Linked DNA regions of Homo sapiens: region 1 is linked to region 2. Evidence: fine-mapped expression QTL. Tissue or cell type: whole blood. Region 2 holds a variant in brackets; the other region holds the start of a gene. All regions are shown on one strand. Distances are from middle to middle.

What was found. PIP is the estimated chance that this variant, and not a neighbour inherited with it, causes the effect.
Region 1: ID2 starts here. The variant in region 2 is fine-mapped to the expression of ID2 in whole blood (TOPMed, PIP above 0.99).

What each region holds. Positions count from the first base shown.
Region 1 is chr2:8,679,218-8,684,519 of GRCh38, forward strand. ID2 (inhibitor of DNA binding 2) reads left to right here and starts at 2,839. Exons shown (of 3, transcript NM_002166.5): 1 at 2,839-3,296; 2 at 3,626-3,689; 3 at 4,468-5,244. The coding sequence starts at 2,949. The coding sequence ends at 3,682. It overlaps ID2-AS1 (ID2 antisense RNA 1), which reads right to left and starts at 2,646. Exons shown (of 4, transcript NR_110154.1): 1 at 2,610-2,646. RefSeq lists a silencer at 1-54 and enhancers at 1-143, 2,038-2,541, 3,029-3,078.
Region 2 is chr2:8,641,979-8,647,350 of GRCh38, forward strand. All of the region lies in intron 1 of LOC105373411 (a long non-coding RNA gene), which reads right to left. Among named protein-coding and RNA genes, the nearest start is that of ID2-AS1, 37 kb to the right of the region's middle. RefSeq lists an enhancer at 1-1,483. The variant A/C (reference allele first, on the strand shown) is at 3,095.

The sequences.
Region 1 (5,302 bases), 37 kb after region 2:
GCCTGGCCAGCGCGGAGCTCCCGGCCCGGAGCTGCTTCTGATTACCGCGAGGGGCCCGGACGCGAGAGCCGCCGCGGGGCCTGCCCTAGAGGCGGAGTGAGTGAGTCCTGGAGCCAGGCTGGGGGACCTTACGGGCCGGTCTGTCGCTGCCACGGGGTGGGGGCGTCCCGGTGGGGAGTCGAGGGGAACCGCACCAACACCCACCAGCGGAAGCCCTGCACACCTTCCCACCGCCCGCGGATCTAGCCCTCCCTCTAGCTGGGGCCGTTTGAACTTTGGAGGCCTCAAATGCAAACCCACCCAAGCCACCAATTGACAGATTTTGACTTGCCTTTAAACCCACTTGGAAAATGCTCCGACACGATTTTCCCCCACGAAAGCAATTTTTAAGGTGATTTCATATTGGGCGTGCTGAAACAGACACACTAGTAACTTAGGCCTCGTTTAAATCATTAACTTATACAGCTTCGTAATCCCCTTTAAATGATCTTTAAATGAATGTAAAACTGGGTAGCGTGCCAATAGAATCGAATTCAACACAGCCAGGCAGACTGGACTCTGACATGGCAGCTAAAGAAAGAAACACCAGAAAACTTTCACCATATTTAGCCATTTTACTACATCAGGGTACAAAAATGATCATGGGAGAAGGCACTGCCTTAATCAACTTTGCAAAGTGTAAAGTGAAACCGCACAATGCTCATTACCGCCCAACCCAGAGCCTGGCTGTGGGGATAATGAGGCTGGCACGGATGTTAACATACGGTGTCCTTGGAAAAAGCTAGGAATGCGTCAGTATCGAAGAGCTGCAATGTCCAAGAATCATAAGTAATAATTTGAGAATCCCAAAGATGTTTGTTTACATTGGCTATTATTGTAAAATAGTCAAAGTATAACATCATGAACCAAAATAGTGTCAAAACAAAATCTGTTCCACTGTGGCACGTATGTGACAGAAACACATGCACACAAAGTACATCAAAAGGCTCGAACTGTGGGAGGACTCGGATAGTAAATCACTTCCAGACTTAATATCAGAAGAGATACGGTGCATCCAACGCTGTCAGGGACAGAGTCGCAGGCAGCATTGCCTGGCCTGGGGAAGGCCCTCCGCAAACTTCTGGCTGGACAGGAAACAGTTTACCTCCTTCCTCCAAACTGAGGGGGCTGAATTTCAGGAAGGTGAGCTCCACCTCAGTGCCACCCACTCTGCCTCCCTGGAGAGGCGTCATGGGGCGCATAGCTGTCACGTGACGGTCAGAGACTGCTGGCCCCACCAGCTGAGAAATTAATCATTAATTGAAGGAAAAAACACTGTTTCCCCATTATCGAGCTTTTCTTTCAGCTTCTAGGCCTGCCCCTTCCGCTTTCTGAAATGCAAAGGAGGTAGAGATTGAGGCAGAAAGTAAATAAGATTTGAATATTGCCTTTCCTGGAGTTTTCTAGTTCATTGTTTTCTGGAGCAAATATTTTCAAAAACAAGAAACTGACACACTGTGGTCAAAACAGAATTCTAGATAAGCTACAATTATGTGAAAATTAAGGTATTTAAGTAAATAGCTGCAAACTTTTTAAAACTTAGACTGAAAGAACGAGTTCTTAAAAGATTTTCAGCCAAAAAAAAAAAAAAAAACCTTGAACCCGTATTCAGTACTAGTGCTGAAAAGATTCCAAACCTCATATGACAGAATATTTTTTTTTCCTTAGTGTGAAGATGTCTATCAATGGCTAGGGCCACCTATCTGTCACAAAGCTTTGGAACTCCTCTAGGTGTTGGAATGTGACACCAGAAATCACAATTAGTGCATAATTAATCACATTACTTTGCCACCTACACGGAAGGGCACAGACCGGCAGCCTTTCAAGGGCAGTGTATGTAAATGTAGTTTCAATATGCAAATTCTCCTAATTATTTCCGATTAATACGATCATTATAATAGCCCTGCCTCCTTCTTGAAAAGGAACCCTGAAAGCGCCCTGCCTGTGAGAGCTCCTTAGCGACCGGTGAGGTTGGGCATGGTTTGCAATAAGTACTCATTTTCTTGAGTTTACAGTAATGCCTCCCGCGCTGCTCCGGGTTGCAAAAGCCCACACTAAGCCTGTCGTCGAATGCGTGCGTGGGTGGTTTGTTTGTGTTAACATAACTTTTCCTTATCTGAAGAGACGAACTCACTCTACAAACGTGACTCTTCAGTGACAACCTAATTTGCGTTTTCACTTTCTTCTGAAATGCTTTCTATCTTTCCTCACGCTCTCCCTCCGATGGGTTGCAGTGAACTGTGGCTTCCCCCCTGCGGTGCTGAACTCGCCCGTGTAGCTGTGATTTTAGAGCTGCCGACAGCTCTAAGGTGTGTAGGGCTTGGTCTGGGAACACCCCCAGGGCAAGGGTCCCGCCGCGCGCTTGGAATTAGAATTAAGAATGCATATTTAGGCGCCCAGGGTCTGCCCCCTTCTCCCTCCTCCTTCCCCTCCCCCTTCCCCTCCCCCTTCCCCTCCCCCATCTTCCCTTCTCTTCCTCCTCCCTCCTCCTCTCCCTCCTCCCGCCTCCCTCCTCCCCGCCCCCCGCCCGCCGCTCCCCGCCCCCCGCCCCCCGCCAGCCCCGCACTTACTGTACTGTACTCTATTTACCACCCCAGCTGGGCTCGCGCCCCGCCCACCCCGCGGGGATTGGCTGCGAACGCGGAAGAACCAAGCCCACGCCCCGCGCCCGCGCCCACCAATGGAAGCGCCCGCTCGTCTTGATAGACGTGCCACCTTCCGCCAATGGGGACGAAGGGAAGCTCCAGCGTGTGGCCCCGGCGAGTGCGGATAAAAGCCGCCCCGCCGGGCTCGGGCTTCATTCTGAGCCGAGCCCGGTGCCAAGCGCAGCTAGCTCAGCAGGCGGCAGCGGCGGCCTGAGCTTCAGGGCAGCCAGCTCCCTCCCGGTCTCGCCTTCCCTCGCGGTCAGCATGAAAGCCTTCAGTCCCGTGAGGTCCGTTAGGAAAAACAGCCTGTCGGACCACAGCCTGGGCATCTCCCGGAGCAAAACCCCTGTGGACGACCCGATGAGCCTGCTATACAACATGAACGACTGCTACTCCAAGCTCAAGGAGCTGGTGCCCAGCATCCCCCAGAACAAGAAGGTGAGCAAGATGGAAATCCTGCAGCACGTCATCGACTACATCTTGGACCTGCAGATCGCCCTGGACTCGCATCCCACTATTGTCAGCCTGCATCACCAGAGACCCGGGCAGAACCAGGCGTCCAGGACGCCGCTGACCACCCTCAACACGGATATCAGCATCCTGTCCTTGCAGGTAAGACCTGCTCCGGGGTCCCCGCCCCGCCGCCGCACACTCCCGCGGTCGTCTGGGCTGTCACTAGGAGATCCGTAGCCCAGACGGTGACTTTCGTATGAGCTATTTAACTTTATTTTCTTCAGAATCTGCTGTAGATTGAGCTGTGCGTGAAATTGCTAGTAAGTTCTGACATGTTAATGCGTCTGTCTTTAAATCTGAATTGTTACCATAAACGTGTTTAATGGAACTTGCTGGTCTGTGGACTACAAAAAAAAAAAAAAAAAAAAAAAAACCCTTTCTACTTAACATTGTCTTAACCTCGTACTCTTTATCCTCTTTCTTTCCAGGCTTCTGAATTCCCTTCTGAGTTAATGTCAAATGACAGCAAAGCACTGTGTGGCTGAATAAGCGGTGAGTGTTTGCTTGTGCCACCCGTGGGTAAACTGCCCCTCGGTGTGTGTGCGCGCGCGCGCATGTGTTTTTGCTTGTGTATCTATAAAATGTCTGATTTGGTAAATGCATGCTTACTTCGCGGTGTTACCCGTACTACATTGTCTCACTAGACATGAAGGAGCTTGTAGCTTTGGGTGCTCGAGATCACAGAACATTTTCCTTTAAAAGGAAATGATGCCAATAACTTACTACGAAGGCGGCCGAGGAACGTGTGTATTGGCTTTGTAGCAAATGTAATGCCCTGGATCTTCCTACGAGTCCTCTGGTACTATGAGGTACTAACCTCCACTGTAATTAATCTTACCGCCACAAATTCCATAGTGATCCTCCTTCCCTAAAACTATAGTCCTCTGGGATTCTCTGGGCTAGTTGAGGATTGCTACCCTGTGCCTTCAACCCTGTGATGTGGGATCCCAGACTTCCCTATCTGTTAACTAAAGGGCTGTTTTCAATCAAATAATTGTTACGAGAAGCAGACTGGCGCCTGTAGCACTGCTGTTGGAGATCCAAATAGGAGATTGGGTTGGGAAGTTTTTCCCTTGAGTCTCTGCTATTTTAATGTTTAATTTGCGCTGTCGAGGCGAGTGTGTGTGTTGCATCTGGACGCCAGGGTTTGCCCAATCTTTGAGTGTTTGGTTAAATGTTCAAACTGTGGCTTCCTCCCGGCGCCAGTCGCCCGCCTCTGCCCTTAGGTTACATTCTCTTAAACATGCCTTTCTCCCCCACTCTTTCGCAGGTGTTCATGATTTCTTTTATTCTTTGCACAACAACAACAACAACAAATTCACGGAATCTTTTAAGTGCTGAACTTATTTTTCAACCATTTCACAAGGAGGACAAGTTGAATGGACCTTTTTAAAAAGAAAAAAAAAATGGAAGGAAAACTAAGAATGATCATCTTCCCAGGGTGTTCTCTTACTTGGACTGTGATATTCGTTATTTATGAAAAAGACTTTTAAATGCCCTTTCTGCAGTTGGAAGGTTTTCTTTATATACTATTCCCACCATGGGGAGCGAAAACGTTAAAATCACAAGGAATTGCCCAATCTAAGCAGACTTTGCCTTTTTTCAAAGGTGGAGCGTGAATACCAGAAGGATCCAGTATTCAGTCACTTAAATGAAGTCTTTTGGTCAGAAATTACCTTTTTGACACAAGCCTACTGAATGCTGTGTATATATTTATATATAAATATATCTATTTGAGTGAAACCTTGTGAACTCTTTAATTAGAGTTTTCTTGTATAGTGGCAGAGATGTCTATTTCTGCATTCAAAAGTGTAATGATGTACTTATTCATGCTAAACTTTTTATAAAAGTTTAGTTGTAAACTTAACCCTTTTATACAAAATAAATCAAGTGTGTTTATTGAATGGTGATTGCCTGCTTTATTTCAGAGGACCAGTGCTTTGATTTTTATTATGCTATGTTATAACTGAACCCAAATAAATACAAGTTCAAATTTATGTAGACTGTATAAGATTATAATAAAACATGTCTGAAGTCAATACCTGAATTCCGAGTGGTTTTTAAGATCTCTGGCATTCACTAGCTCTTTTCTCTCCCTGTCTCCC
Region 2 (5,372 bases):
AAAGGAAGCTAGATAATGCCAGAGAGTCCTTTGATTTACAGTACTTGCCCTTCGGACGCCACCCTGCTCTCTGAAAGCACCTAACCTTTCTTTTCTGGATGTACGCAGGCACCGACGTGAGAATCTGCACATTCCCTTCACACTGGAGAACTTCAGAAGTAATTCTGAACTTGTCTTTCAAACTTTTAATTGTCTTTTTCATGATTTCTTAATTACATTTTCAATTACTTCTAAACCTCACAACACTGAGTCTTTGAAACTCCAATTTTTAACAGCACAAAATTTTAATGTTTATTGCTACATATGTTATTGTGTTTCATCTCTAATTCCCCTCAAAGCTAATTTTGCTTTAGTAGAATGAGAAATTGCAGCAAATTTAGTTAGGCAACTGAAATATGTACACAAATACAGAGGAACCCCCGCAAGTGATAGAATAAAAAGGAGAAGAAGAGAAGCCCAGCGGAGTCCCGGTCCCCTCCTACCATCTGTGCTGCAAGCTCTGGGGTCCCTTACATTGGTCATCCTGAAACAAAGCTGAAGGCAGATTCCAGCCGGTTTTCCATTCACTATTCATTCAGAGGTCCACCCGCTCCATATGCATTCAGCCAACTGCTGTGTTAAATCAGGGCCTTCTCCCAGAATTGACATGGTAATGAAATCATGGTGTTGCTCAGTGAAAAGACCGCCATAGGTATGCCCCTCTCTTGACAAATCCACCCTTTCACCCCATTGAGGCCTGAAAATTATCTCATAACATCACAACATCTGTGCACAGAGGCCTGCCTTTTGGAGCTGGGCATGTTTATTGCTCGGTTGAGTCTCCTGCACTGGCTCTCTCAGGATAGGGCAGGCTGCCACTCAGCTTGGTCCAGCCACTCCTGGGCATTAGCCTAGCAGCCCCAGGCTTCCCTCCTGCTTTTCCCACAGCCTGCGTGCTCCCAAAGCCTCGGGGCCCAGAAATGCTGACGTCTGGATGCCGCATGCCAGGAATTTTAGTGGGATCATTTTCAGGTGTTAAAGGTGGACTACAGAGCTCAACTAGTTCATGTATACTTGCTGTCAGAAAACCTTATAATTAGTCCGGCAAAGAAAACCAGACAAAAAGTGTGAGGTTTCTGGGGTGGGAGGAGCTGAAAGTGAGGAGAAGTTAGCTAATGAATTTTGGTCAGACTCTAGCAAATGACATTTGCTTAACTAATAAGTGTATATGAACTTTATTTAACTGGCCTAGGTCAATAAAATGCTTCTACAGGGAGCAGCGAGGTTGGGGGAACATATAGTTTGCACAATCTGCAAGCTATATGTGTTCTGCCCCGATACAATGATTCCATTTCATTTGATTTGACATTTAAGAGCCCTTTTTAGAAGGAAAATGAATATTTCTGTATTTTATTTGCTATAACCTCACTTGACTCTGCACATAGCTGAGAATAAATGTCACATTCATTGCACTGCAAACAGTTGTGTGCTATCCTGGAGAGGGGTCACATGGTGTTGGGGGGGTGTTATTAGCCCCCCCGATAAGTGCTCACAGGGTGTGTCTGTGGCCCATATGGGCTCTGGGTGCCCGGACTTGTTTTGCTTTCTTCCCCTGTGTCCACATCTGAGCAAGGATTTGGATAAAATGTTCCTGATTACATATGAGATGCATTTTTGCCTGATAACAGGGATACACAGAGCGTCTCTTTCATTCAGGTGTCCAGGAGGCCCTGCTTCCACTGCAGGGAACAGAGAGACAGGCCAGCTTGACCTGGGCTTTTCCAGCGTCCATTCCCATACCACCTGGCCTTGACCACCTTGCTAAAGCTTGAAGGTCAAAACTGAGCCATTTTGATCACTTCCTGGTCACAGGACTAGGAAATGCCTCGCTGGTGGATATTTTCCTTTCAGTTGTCTTTAAAAGGAGTACTCTGCCTGTTGGGGTCACTCCCAGAAATAACGTCTTGCCAGCTCTCTGGGTGTCCTTTAGCCCAGTCAAGTTGACTCATGAACTTAACCATCACATGCTCAGCTAGGCTTCTAAAGCAGCGCTTCACAGACATGCCTACACATCCAATACTGATGGGGTCCCACCCCAGTCTGGGGTGCAGCCTGGACCAAGAGTCAGGGTTCTGGGGTGCAGATCTGGTCACTGTACTGTCCGTTCCCAAAGCCCTTCAGAGACTTCCTGCTGTACCACCACCCATGTGCCAACCCCTTCATCAGGGCCCCCACCACTCTGGGCTCATCTCCCATCACATCTCATCCCTCCCCACTGCCCGTCGCCTCTAGGGTCCTTAGGAAAAGGACCCTGTCCTGGGCCCTGAGCTTTTGAGGGCTTAGCTTCAGCCCACATCTGGCTGAGCCCTTCCCAACCTGGCTACGGACTGAATCAGTTATGGATTGAATTGTTTTCCCCCAAAATCCATATGCTGAAGTCCTGACCCCCAGAATCTCACAGTATGACCTTATTTGGGGATCAGGTTTTCACAAAGATAATCAAGTTAAAGTGAGGTCATTAGGGTGGGCCCTACCTAATATGACTGGTGGCCTTACAGAAAAAGGAAAGTAGGACACAGACACATAAAAGGAAGACAATGTGAAGAGACACAGGGAGAAGATGGCCACCTCCAAGCCAAGGACAGAGGTGCTCTGAAAAGCCAATCCTGCCAGACCTGCAGCCTCCAGAACTATGAGGCAAGGGCTTCCTGTTGCTCAAGCCTGGCGGTTTGTGGTGCTTTGTAAAGTGGGTAGTCCTAGCAAAGCCAGGCAGGATCTGCAGGGTCGGCCCACAGGAAGCCCGTGCCCCAACTTCTACACCATGCCCTAGGCACCTCGGAGCCCAGAAATCTCTGCCCAAAGGGCCTGGCCCCATTGCCAAGGCCTGGGCAGGTTCCTTCCTGGAAGCGTCCTCCCAGGGCGGGCCGCACTCCAAGGCTGCACTCCAAGAACCAGCTCTTGGAGGAGGGTGGGGCAGGAGCTTGGGTTTGAGAGCTGAGAACCCGCAGGCCGCTTGCAGGACCTTAGCCATGGCAGAAAAACCAGCCCCAGAGGCGGGCAGGGGACGATGGGACACACCAGGGACCTCACTGGCCCGGTGCCCTGGGCCCCGTGA[A/C]CACCAGGGGGCCCCCTCCGCCCCACGCTCCCTGGTGGCCGCGTCATTCCTCCTCAAGCCGAGTGAGGAGGGCAGGGAAAGTCACCCCGGCTGCTGCCCCCATCTCGTCCCACGAGAAGGAGCAGAAGGAGCAGCTGTAGGTCTAGAATCGCATCCTGACTCCTCAAGTTTCCCATCGCGCTCCTTCTTCAGCTTCACTGCTCAGCCCCGACCTGGCTTTCTGCCCCATCGCTGTGCCCTCTGACCCCCAGCCCCTCCGACAAGCACCGAGGCTCCGCCCTCTGTCCGAGGCCCTGTGAGCACGGCGCGGGAAGTCAGCAGGGTGGGGCGGCTGCCCCTCGGTGCCAGGGCATGGGAGCCTCAGGTGGGGCTACTACAAAGTGCGACTGGGGCGGAGGCGCCGAGAAGCCACGCGGGCTCCTGTTCCCGGACCGCACCGCTGGGGCGAGGCTACCGAGTCACCACGACCCCCAGGCCAGCCCAGGCCACGGGTGACTCCTGGGGGCTGCCCGCGGCCCGCCCGCCCGCCTGGGGAGGAACCCAGAGGAGCCCCGTGGGCCATGTGCCTGTTCCCAAACTGCGATCCATGCCAGGCTCCGCACCCCCGGGCACGGCGACGTCCTGGCCTCAGCCTGGAGCCGACAGCAGGGCCACGGCCATGGCCTCCGAGAGGGCAGCTGCCGAGACGGTGGCCGGGGCTCTGACATGCGCCCTGCTCTGCCCTTGGCCCCTTCCCCGGGATCTGTCCGTGTGCCCGGAGCGCCTACGAGGCCCCAGTGGAGTCACGGCCCCGGAAAGCGCTGCCCCTGCGCCTCAGCCCCAGTAAAGGCTGTTGGTTCCTCCCGGCGCAGCCCTTCAAAAGCGCCCACGTTCCTCCCTGTTCAGGCCACATACTAATTTTAAAAGAAAAAAACACAACCCCCCAACTGTCAAAATAAGGTATTTATATTTTAGTGAGTCATGTTAATATGTGCTCCAAAATGGTAGGGGCCTCCTCAAATCCTGCTGTCGGAGTGTGTGTTCTCAATCATAATTAAGGTTACTGTTAGGTTCTTGGAGACTACAGAGGCAACCAGTTCTTTATCCATTGTGTTTTTGACTGTGACTAGCCTAGGACATTTTGACGTTCAGACAAGTGTTGTCTAGTTTTGACACTCTTCAAAGGACCGTCTTCAGCCCTCAGTGTAGGTTTCTGATAACTGAAGATTTTGAACAGGAGTTGACCTGGTGAACTGAACCAGTGGAAGACTGAAGTCATCTTCTTTTGACTTTTTGGGACATGGTTGATCCTTTGTTTTGTCTTCCAGAATCGAGGAAGCTTTTCTTTTAAGCTGTTTGTAGCTTTTGGCCATTGTGGGGGTGAACCAACCAGTGGTCTGTGACTACAGTTCAGAAGAAACAGTTGGGCCATCAAACTCCAAATGGCCATGCAAATGGCGGACGATGGCTCTCTACACTGGGGACCCTAGATAGGCCTCTAAGTTAAGAGCAGTCATCGTCCCTATCCTAACGGCCATTAGATGTACCTCTTCAGAGCAGGGATTGATGGCAGCAACAAGCATGTGGTGTGGCACTACCATCACACCAGCTGCTGCAGGGAGGGTGCAGGTAGGAGGTGGACAGGGCCCCCCACAGCCCACTGCCCTGGGGGTGGCTGCAAGGGGCCGAGCCCAATCCCGTTCAGGAGGGGGAGCAGTGCAGCAGGGGAGCAGCATGGCTGGGCAGAAAGGGGCCCCAGTGCAGAGCTGGGGCTGCACTTTGGGGATCCAGGACAGGAAGTGGAAGTGGCAACCACTTTTGGGACCTGGCCAGTGGCACAGCCACTGTGCCCACACCGCCTAGGGTGCCAGGTTCCTGCACTTCAGAAGAAGGCTCTACACAGGCCATCCAGGGCCGGGTCCCTGGGGTCTGCCCTGAGTCAAGATGGCTGCCAAGCTTGCCACTTCTGATGGCCGAGCCCAGGGCCCGAGATCCACTCCATCCCAGGCCATCCTGGAGCACAAGGGCAATGGGGAGAGCTCATGGAGATGTCGCCCCTGCCCCGGACACTGGCTTGGGGCCCAGCAAGGATCAGGAGCCCCCAGCCCATGCTGCAAGGGGGCACAGCTGGGGCTGCATGCTCCATGGAGCCAGCAGGAGCCAGGAGCAGGCAGCAGCCCCGTCCTCACAGGCATGGCTGCAGCTGCCCAAGCCAGGCAGTAGACCTGGGCCTCCCGTGGTCTTGGAGGGCCAGGAACAGGCAGGAGCCCTGCCCTCCCAGGTGCCACTGCAGCCACCC